Regions from separate parts of the Homo sapiens genome. Here region 2 is linked to region 1. The links come from fine-mapping of genetic effects on gene expression. A gene starts in region 1. The other region holds a variant in brackets. All regions are shown on one strand. Distances are between the middles of the regions.

Region 1 (5,481 bases):
ACAACCACAACAGCAACAGAGGGGAAAAATGCACACGCTCCAGTGTATGGGTGATGGCGCTGCAGCAGGCCAGCCTAGAATGTTCTGTAGCTTTTTAGAAGCAACGTTACTTAGACCGCGTAGCACCATGAGAAAATGCCCACAGACGCAGTATTAAATGAAAAAAGGTGTCACGGCACACACACTCCAGTGACAACGACAATGAAGGAAAAGGATGGGGAAAAGACTGGCAGTGAACTCCAAAATGCTAACACAGTCACTGCCTGCTGAAGAAATAGTGGGTGATTTTTGTTTCATTTTCTAAATTTCCTGTAGCGCTGTTTTGTTATTTTCTAAATCAAGAAAATGAGTACATTCATGGTTTCCCTATAATGAGCTCAGATTCACTTCCCTGGGACCCACCTGCTCCCTAGCTCTGGCCCACGTGTCTGGGACAATTTCTGCCATGGGATGCCTTTCTCATTTGGGACAGTCCCTCAGACATATGAGAATCTGTCCCTACTTTCTCTTTCCCAGACTCAGTCAACATCCCTGGCTCTTTGAAGATGACCTGTCAAGGTTTTAAAATCCTTCAAAAGATGGAGCCCAGAACCGCACCCAGGTGGGTCTGCCCCCTTTGGGGGGCAGCCATGTCACACTGTGGATCCTGGGTCTCAACCCCTACCTATACTTGTTTGGAGGAAGCTGCATTCTGTCCCCGAAATTTCCAACCCTTGCCGAGGGCCACTCTGTGTGGCTCAGCCTTTTGGGGTCTGGCCCCCCTGCGGTGGTGAATGGGAACATTTTCTGCTTTTTCCTTGCCCCTGACCCAATGCAGAGAGAAGAGCAGCTGCTTCTGAGAGGGTGGAGGGCACCAAGCTCACCAATGAAAAGCACATCCCTGCACACGTGCCAGCCAGAAGCCAGACTCCTTTCTTCAAAGGCCCTGGGACCCTGGATCACACCTTCACAGCTCACAGTTGGTAAAAAAATAAAATAAAATAAAATAAAAATTAAAAAGGCTGACTGGGGTGGGAGGGAGCTAACCATGTCAGGCTCCAGCCCCAGTCCCTCAGGCTGGAAAGGAAGTTAGGGCTGGGTGTGGGGCCATGTGAGGGGAGTCTCACAGGCCCAGGACATCTGGGTCCCCTCCACTGTGCATGTCAGGACAGCCAGAAAAAAAAGTGAAAAAACAAAAAAACCCTAAATCGTGAGCAGGGACCCAGCAGGACAAAACTGCCAGCAGCTCCAAGGGAGCCCAGACACTGCTCAGCACCCACCAGGGCAATGCCTGCTCTCCTGGGCCAGAGGATCCTGCCAGGCCTCAACCTCACCCCTGCTGTCCTTGCCCTGTTCCTGCTGTGGCCACAACCAAGAAAGACACTGGAACCGCCAGGGTACTAGGAGCTTGAAACAGGCCCCCTGGGTGTCCCCACTCTCACAATGCTCCCATGTCCCCAGTCTGTAGCCTGCTGCCAGTGGAGACAGAGCTTCCACGGTTCCCATGTGACCCCATTTATATCCTGAACTTGGCTGCTCCTGTGCCAGCTGGGCCATAGGTGTGGCGAGTGCTGGGTCAGGACTGACCACCAGGTTGTTTCAACTCAGAGCCGGGGCCAGGACCGGACCTTCCTGCCACACCACACAGATGGCCATACACCACACATTCCCCACATCTCCTGCTAGCTGACCCAGCCACAGCTGGAGCCGGAAGCCCTTTCACTCCCTCCAGCCCTCTGCAGGGAAGCACGTGCTCAACCAACAAGGTCCCTCTGGGGCCGGGCTGGGGGCCTGTGTCCCCAGTGGGTGAAGGTGCCTGCCTGGTTTCCTTCCACCCACAGCCATCCAGCCCTGTATAGCTGGGGATGAAAGGACAGCCAGCCTAACTCCACTAGAGGCCTGGGGTAGCAACTTCTCCCTTTGAGCCTCGGTTCCCGGGTGTACAAAATGGGCGGGGAAGTGAACTGGTAGTTAAGCTCCAAAAAATCTGCTGGCTGGACACACCCCTTCCTGACACCTGGTCTGGGCCACAAAGAGCCTAGGAGAATGGGCTGCCCAGGGTGCCAGAAGGTGGGGGCATGGTGCTAATGCTCCGTTACCTCCCCCCGGGCAGAAGGCCTGCCCAGTTTCCCACCCAAAGATCCCTTGGCTTAGGCCTGGTCTTCTGAGAGGCCAAGGGTGACAGGCTCAGTCCTAGGACCTGGGCTTCTAACTGCTCACCCGAGGTGGCTGGGCCCTGGGCTTGCTTGCAGCCCGCAGGGTCATGGTGGGGTAATGAGGGAGGGGTCAGAACCAAGCAAGCCAGGGCACCTGCGGGGAGGCCCTGTACAGGGAAGGGCAGGGGAGTCCAGCACTCTCTCTAGGGACCTGGCCCATACGGATCCTCTTCCTCCAGACTCCAGCCACCTCCTACTCTGAGCTCCACAGAGGGGGGGACTCGGGATGACCCGAGAAGACGAGTCCGTGGAGCTGCAGGGCAGTACCTCCCTCATGCACTCCCTTCCAATTTGGGTTCTGACAGTGGCTCCTGGGAGAATTCGAACCCGTGCAAGGGAGTAAAGGAGAGAAGGGAGAAGTGGGAGAAGAGGGGAATGGGAGTGGACGCGACAGTGGCAGCAACAGAGACTAGACGCGCGACCTCCACCCTCTTCCCTCCAGGGGACACTCCGGGACGGCCAGGCACTCACCTCTCTTGGGGCACTGCGGTCCGGGCCACCTCGCCGCGGGCGGCATCAGCGGCCTGCGGGACGGTCCATGCGGTCAGGGGGGAGGGGAGGGGCGCAGGGGTCCCCAGGGGGTGCGGTACAAAGAGGTATGGGTGCAAGGAGAGGGGAGGAGGGACCGCCAGGCAGAGGCAGGGGGACGGACGCACGGCCCGGGTCGCGGAGGGAAGAAAGGCGGGGGAAGGGGGCGGGAGGGAGTCGGGGGGAGGAAACAATGTAGCCGGCGCGGCCCCGGCAGAGTTCCGCTTCCGAGCGCCGCCACTGAGGTTCGATTTTGGAACGTCGCGCTGGCTGCCGGGGGCCGCCCCGGACGCTCGATCGGGGCCGCGGGGCTCCTCGCGCTCCACGCCCCGCGGGCTCCGGCGGCCAGAGGCTGGCTGGGGCGGGAGGGACGGCGGGCCGGGTTACGGCCCCGACGGCGGCGCAGCCGGGCGGTCGCCCGGCTCGGACCCCACCCCGGCAGAAGCCCCCGGGCAAGGCGCGGGTGGGGCAGGAGCGGGAGGGCGGCAGCGGGCTCGGCGGCGGCGGCGGCCAACCTCGGCTCGCCCAGGGCTCCGCTGGGAGGAAGCTCGCAGGCCTGGCGAGAGGAAGCGCGGCCCGGATCCTCCGCCCGCGGCAGCGCGCCTGCGCGAGGGGGCCTGCCCGGCGCGCGGCGGGGCGTGGGCCGGCGGGGCGGCGCCCCCTGCCGGGCGCCGGGGGCACTGCGGGGGGTGTGTCCGCGCCCACGCCCTGCCCCCACTTGCCGCCTGGCTGCGTTGAAGGCTCCGAGGGTCTCTCCTCAGCCGGCCTGGGAGCAACCTCCCAGCCTTCTCTGGACGCAGCTTTCCCGCTGCAGAAGCGCTGGGGGCCGGGCCTGGGCCCCTCTCCTCAGGTCTGTTTGTGGAGAGTGGGCCTGATTCGCAGCAGAAAGCCTTCATTCATTCATTCACCAACATTTCCTGGCGCTGACATCGTGGCGGAGCCTGCTCTGGAGTCTATTGGCAAGACCATTTCACTACCGTCAAGGCGTTCTCGGTCGGGTGGGGGTAGGCTGACAGGCCGACAGACAACGGCAAGGAAATAATTGATCAAAGTGGAGAGGTGGTGGACACGGTTCCCAGGAGGCAGAAAGAAAACTAGGGCTAACGGGGAGACCTCACACCTCACAGAGCCGGGACCAGGCAGAGGGAACAGCATGCACAAGGGCGGGGAGTGCGGAGGGAGCTTGGTGGCTTCTGGGATCTAAATATAGCTCAGGCGGCTGCCGCTTGCAGTGTGGGTGGGGGAGAGTGGTGGGAGATGGGTTCCTGCAAACAACAGGGGCAAAAGAGATCCAAAGAGCCTCATGGGACTTTCTTGGAGTTTATGTTCAGCCTGGAGGCAATAAAGAAGTTGTCAGCAGCTCTGTGACCTTGGGCAAGTTACTTAACCTCTCTGTGCTTTAGTTTCCCCATTTGGTAAAATAGGTGATATATAATGGCACCGACTTCTTAAGTTTTTGTGGGGAGGGGAGGAAATGAGTTAATACGTTTAAAGTGCTTAGTATGCAGTAGCTGGCACGTGAGGAGCCCTCCGTTAAGCAAGGGCTGTTACATCACTGTTAACGAAAAGCAGGGAGATGACCTGCTCTGAGCCACAGGAGAGGACAGCGTGCTCAGGCATGACAGGGGTGGGAGAGTGCAGGGTGGCGGGGGAACAGAATGGGGATGCAGTGATGAGGGTGAGACCGGGGAACAGAATGGGGATACAGTGATGAGGGCGAGACCAGAGACTCCAGCGTAGGGAGGAGGTAAAGGTGGGGGACTTTCTAGGGACTAGACCCTGAAGCAAGGGTCAGGCTTGGGTGGACAGAGGGAAGAGGCACTCTTGGGGTTGGGGGGGAGGAAGTGGGGCATGCTGACAAAGTCTTGGAACACAAAATAAGCATGAAGAGGCCCGAGGGAGCGAGAAGAGGGCAAACAGCCCTGTGGGAGACGGAGCTGGGAGACAGTGTGGCTGCAGATTGTTTTAAAGAGCCTCGGATGCCAGGAGGAGTTGCCCCCAAAACCACAGGTCGGCCCTCTGACCCAGGGCACCCTTAGGCCGGTTTCCCAGCTGGAGCCAGCCCTTTGGAGAGGGATGTCCTTTGAGGAGACAGCCAGTAAGTTTCAGAGATAGGTGTGGTGTAACAGAAAAAAGATGAATTTGGGGTTCAAGTCTCCAAGTTAAATTTCAACCCGTCCACTTACTAGCTGTGTGACTTAGGGCTAGTTACCTAAGGTCTCTGAGCTGTTTCCTCTTTTGTAAGATCAGGCTCAAAATATACTTCTCTCATGATAGATAGTGCAGATTCAGCAAGATAACGGCCTGGGGGTGAGGGAGTGGAAAGGGTGCTCAGCAGAGCTGGTTTCCCTTTCTTTCCTCTGAGGTCAAGATGGAATGATAATATGGGGCCGGATGGGGGGCCGCCTCTCAGCCTACAAGAAAGCACTTCAGCAGCTCTGCAAAGCCTTCTGGGAGGGAGAAATTGACATCTCCCCTCCCCTGGCTGAATCAGCTAGCAGAATGGGAAAGAAAAGACTGGGGATTTGGGGAAAATACTCTAATCCCTGTTCCAGTTTTGTCACCAACCTTTCTTTATCCCCAAATGCACTTGACTTTTTCCCCTGGGTGTGCTGTGGCCCAGCTGTGAACTTTGGAGTCAAATAGACCAGCATTTGAATCCTGGCTCCACCTCTTCTCAGCAAAGTGAAATAAATTTTTTAATCTTCCTGTACTCCAGGCACTGGGGATAAAACCATAAACAAATCGATAAAGGGCC
Region 2 (5,218 bases), 130 kb before region 1:
TAATTTTTGTAATTTTAGTAGAGATGGGGTTTCACCATGTTGGCCAGGCTGGTCTCGAACTCCTGACCTCTCAGGTGATCTGCCTGCCTCAGCCTCCCAAAGTGTTGGGATTACAGGCGTGAGCCACCGCGCCCAGCCAGATGCTCAAGAAATTTTAATTTCTTGGCCATGTTTTTGTGGGCGGTTGAGGCCAAACTGCAGGAGGCGAAGGAGTGATCTTAGGCAATGAGAGTGATTTGAAAGATGGTGAGGGTTGAGGCATTGGCTTTTCTTTTACAAGCAGAAGATTTATTTGTAGCTGGATAGAACTAGTAGATGGAAAGTGATTCTTGTTGCCTTTGCTTTTTTTTTTTTTTTTAATGTGTTTTTGTTTTGTTTTGAGACTGTCTTGCTCTGACACAGGCTGGAGTGCAGTGATGTGATCATGGCTCACTGTAGCCTCGACTTCCCGGGCTCCAACAATCCTTCCGTCTCAGCCTCCAGAGTAGCTGGGACCACAGGCGTGCACCTCCACACATGGCTAATTTTTGTGGTTTTGGTCTCATGTTGCCCAGGCTGGTGTCAAATTCCTGAGTTCAAGCTCTCTGCCTGTCTTGGCTTCCCAGAGTGCTAGGATTACAGGCGTGAGCCACCACAGCTGGCCTCCTTTGTATCTTAGGTAAGGTTGAGATTTCAACATTTTATTTTATCTGATTCACTCATGTATACCCTTAGAAGGAAACGGGTACTCTGGTAAGTTTTTTGTTTGTTTGTTTGTTTTTCTAAGACGGAGTCTTGCTCTGTTGCCCAGGCTGGAGTCCAGTGGCACAATCTCGGCTCACTGCAACCTCTGCCTCCCAGGTTCAAGCGATTCTCCTTCCTTAGCCTCCTGAGTAGCTGGGATCACAGGCATGTGCCACCACGCCTGGCTAATTTATTGTAGCTTTAGCAGAGATGGGGTTTCACCATGTTGGCTGGACTGGTCTTGAACTCCTAGCCTGAAGTGATCCGCCCACCTCACCCTCCAAAGTGCTGGGATTACAAGCATGAGCTACTGCACCTGGGGTGCTCTAGGAATTTTTACTTTTTTTTTTTTTTTTCGAGACAGGGTCTTGCTCTGTCACCCAGGCTGGAGTACAGTGGTGTGGTATCAGCTCACTGCAACCTCTGCCTCCTGGGCTCAAGCAATCCTCCTATCTCAGCCTCTGAGGAGCTGGTACTACAGATGCATGCTACCACACCCAGCTAATTTTTGTATTTTTTTGTAGACCACGTTGCCCAGGCTGGTATGGGTTTTTTGTGTTTTGTTTTTCTTTTGAGACAGAGTTTTGCTCTGTCGCCCAGGCTAGAGTACAGTGGCATGATCTCGGCTCACTGCAAGCTCTGCCTCCCAGGTTCATGCCATTCTCCTGCCTCAGCCTCCCGAGTAGCTGGGACTACAGGTGCCCGCCACCACGCCTGGCTTATTTTTTGTATTTTTAGTAGAGACGGGGTTTCACCGTGTTAGCCAGGATGGTCTCAAACTCCTGGACTCAAACGATCCACCTGCCTCGGCCTCCCAAAGTGCTGGGATTATAGGCGTGAGCCACCGTGCCCGGCCTGGTATGTTTTTAAATGGTTGAAAAATCAATGAAAAATATTTCGGCCAGGCGCGGTGGCTCACACCTGTAATCCCAGCACTTTGGGAGGCTGAGGCGGGTGGATTACAAGGTCAGGAGTTCGAGACCAGCCTGGCCAATATGGTGAAACCATGTCTCTACTAAAAATATAAAAATTAGCTGGGCATGGTGGCACGCACCTATAGTCCCAGCTACACGGGAAGCTGAGGCAGAAGAATCGTTTGAACCCAAGATGTGGAGGTTGCAGTGAGCCGAGATCATGCTGCTGTACTCCAGGCTGGGCGACAGAGCGAGACTCTGACTCAAAAAAAAAAAAATTTTTCATAATATATAAAAACTGTATGAAATTCAGAATATGGGCCGGGCATGGTGGCTCACACCTGTAATCCCAGCACTTTGGGAGGCCAAGGTGGGTGGATCACAAGGTAGGAGATCAAGACCATCCTGGCTAACATGGTGAAACCCCGTCTCTACTAAAAATACAAAAAATTAGCCGGGCGTGGTGGCGGGCACCTGTGGTCCCCACTACTCCGGAGGCTGAGGCAGGAGAATGGCATGAACCTGGGAGGCGGAGGTTGCAGTGAGCCGAGATCATGCCACTGCACTCCAGCCTGGGCGACAGAGCAAGACTCTGTCTCAAAAAATAATAAATTCAAATATGGTGTCCATAAATAAGGTTTTATTGGAACACAGTCACACGCCCTCATTCATTTACATATTATCTGTGGCTTATTTTTTTGCCTTTTAGTAAATTATGGTAAGATCATACATAAAATTTACCATCTTGACCTTTTTTTTTTTTTTTTTTTTTTTTGAGATGGAGTCTCGCTCTGTCGCCCAGGCTGGAGTGCAGTGGCGCCATCTCGGTTTACTGCAACCTCTGCCTCCCAGGTTCACGCCATTCTCCTGCCTCAGCCTCCCGAGTAGCTGGGACCACAGGCATCAGCCACCACGCCCGGCTAATTTTTTATATTAGTAGAGACGGGGTTTCACCGTGTTAGCCAGGATGGTCTCAATCTCCTGACCTCGTGATCCGCCCACCTGGGCCTCCCGAAGTGCTGGGATTACAGGCATGAGCCACTGCACCTGGCCTCATCTTGACCATTTTTGAGTTTACAGTACAGTGGCATTAGGTACATTCACACTGTGCATTATCTATAGCTGCTTTTGCATTAAAATGACATAGTGAGTAGTTGGACCAGAGAGTACTATTTGCCTGTTTACAGAAAGTTTGCCCACCTTTACTCTAAAATAATAGAAATAATTTTCACAAGAAGCAAACTTACAAAAATCACAAGGCATGTTACTAGAAGGCAAAAGTGACTAGATAAATTCAATCTACTGGTGAATTTGTCTCATCAAACTTTCTTCACACACACACCCATTAGGCAAATTGAATCAACTTCTTTGTTGTGCTGGAAAAAGTAGGTACATCTTGGCCAGGCGCGGTGGCTCACGCCTGTAATCCCAGCACTTGGGGAGGCTGAGGTGAGTGGATCACCTGAGGTCAGAAGTTTGAGACCAGC[T/C]GGCCAACACAGTGAAACGCTATCTCTACTAAAAATACAAAAAATTTACTGGGCATGGTGGCGAGCGCCTGTAATCCCAGCAGGAGGCTAAGGCAGAAGAATCGCTTGAACCTGGGAGGCGGAGGTTGCGGTGAGCCGAGATCATGCCATTGCACTCCAGCCTGGGTAACAAGAATGAAACTCCATCTCAAAAAAAAAAAAAAGTAGGTACATCTTTTAGCTTGATGGATCCTAGCTCTACCTAAAGAAGTAGATGGGTTGGGTGCAGTGGCTCACGCCTCTAATCCCAGCACTTTGGGAGGCTGAAGCGGACGGATCATGAGGTTAGGAGTTCAAGACCAGCCTTCCCAACATGGTGAAACCCCGTCTCTACAAAAATTAGCTGGGCATGGTGGTGCACGTCTGTAGTCCCAGCCACTCAGGAGGCTGAGGCAGGAGAACTGTTTGAACCTGGGAGGCGTAGGTTGCAGAGAGCCGAGATCGTGCCACTGCATTCCAGCCTGGCGACAGATCAAGACTCTGTCTCAAACAAACAAAAGAAGTAGATGGTAAATATGAGGATCCTTCCACAGCTTGACTTGGATGGACAGGGCTTCTACCCTAACAGGATGGGGTCTCTAGCCTTTTTCTTTCCTACAGTTTGTTTTAATTAAGTTTCAAAGCAGGCCGGGTGCGGTGGCTCACGCCTGTAATCCCAGCACTTTGGGAAGCCGAGGTGGGTGGATCACGAAGTCAGGAGATCAAGACCATCCTGGCTAACACGGTGAAACCCCATCTCTACTAAAAATACAAAAAATTAGCCAGGCGAGGTGGCGGGCACCGGTAGTCCCAGCTACTCGGGAGGCTGAGGCAGGAGAATGGCATGAACCCGGGAGGCGGAGCTTGCAGTGAGCCAAGATGGCACCACTGCACTCCAGCCTGGGCGACAGAGCCAGACTCCGTCTCAAAAAAAAAAAAAAAAAAGAAAATAAATTTCAAAGCAATTAATAGTTTGTCACATTTGTTTATATGTTATATATCTACACACGTCACTTCACCCCTGAATACTTCAGCAAAAATCTGAGAAAAAGGACTTTTGCCTCCTACATAAACACAATTCTGTTCTATTTCAAGAAGTTTAGCATCAGGCTAGGCGCAGTGGGTCACGCCTATAACCCTGGCACTTTGGGAGGCCGAGGCGGGTGGATCACCTGAGGTCAGAAGTTCGAGACCAGGCTGACCAACACTGAGACACCCTGTCTCTATTAAAACTACAGAAATTAGCTGGGCGTAGTGGCTCATGCCTGTAATCCCAGCTATTCAGGAGGCTGAGGCAGGAGAATCGCTTGAACCTGGAAGATGGAGGTTGCAGTGAGCCAAGATTGGCCATTGCACTCCAGCCTGGGCAACAAGAGTGAAACTCCGTCTCAAAATAAAAAAAAAAAAATAATAAGTTTAGCATCAAATACATACAGTTCATATTTCTGAAGAGTCCAGGCCAGTTGTAGAATGTCCTGTAATCTGCCTGTGTCTGTTTCCTAATTATTCAAATCCAGCTAAACATTTTTGGCAAAAATACTATGTGAAATTCCAATTGTATCCCCTCAGGAGGGACATGATGTCAGTTTGTCCTCATGTCTTTTTATTACATACACCTACCAGCTGATGGAAGGCAGCATAATGTAGCAGTAAGATGAGAAAATGGGGTTTGGATTCAGACTTGGGTATAAATCCCAGTCTACTGTATAACAGTCATATGACTGTGTATATGTTGCCTACACTTCTGTCCTTTTGTTTCCTTATCTGAAAATGGGAGCCACCTCACAAGGATATAACAAGAATGAAAGGTTAGCAGATTATGTTCTATTTGTTATAATCATTTTTTTGGTTGTGCTTGGGAAAATGGCTTAAGCCTAGTCATTCTCTCCTAAGTTTTGCTAACTATCACTTCAGTTTTTCCTGGCTGTTTGTTTAACTGGATGCCAGAGAGCTTGTCCTTAGCAGCAGAGCCTATTAGTCTATAGTCACATTTTGCAGTAACATTGTTTAGTTTGCCATTTTGCTGCATTGGAGAAGTTTGGTTGAACGCCAAGTGAGATGACTCTGTGCTGGGCT

Direction of the effects. Alleles are on the strand shown, and positions count from the first base shown. SD is a standard deviation of normalised expression in the study named.
With allele C in place of T in region 2, the expression in CD4 T cells of the gene that starts at base 3,307 in region 1 is lower (small effect, 0.40 SD a copy in CEDAR).

Evidence for each region. PIP is the estimated chance that this variant, and not a neighbour inherited with it, causes the effect. A credible set is the group of variants that fine-mapping cannot tell apart.
Region 2: its variant is the best candidate, but not a certain one, in a credible set for the expression of CSK in CD4 T cells (CEDAR, PIP 0.58).

What each region holds. Positions count from the first base shown.
Region 1 is chr15:74,779,906-74,785,386 of GRCh38, reverse strand. CSK (C-terminal Src kinase) reads right to left here and starts at 3,307. Exons shown (of 13, transcript NM_004383.3): 1 at 2,667-3,307. RefSeq lists enhancers at 948-1,007, 1,018-1,147, 2,030-2,605, 3,648-3,717, 3,738-3,857 and silencers at 2,838-3,097, 3,208-3,427.
Region 2 is chr15:74,913,214-74,918,431 of GRCh38, reverse strand. No RefSeq gene overlaps it. Among named protein-coding and RNA genes, the nearest start is that of FAM219B, 9.0 kb to the right of the region's middle. The variant T/C (reference allele first, on the strand shown) is at 3,125.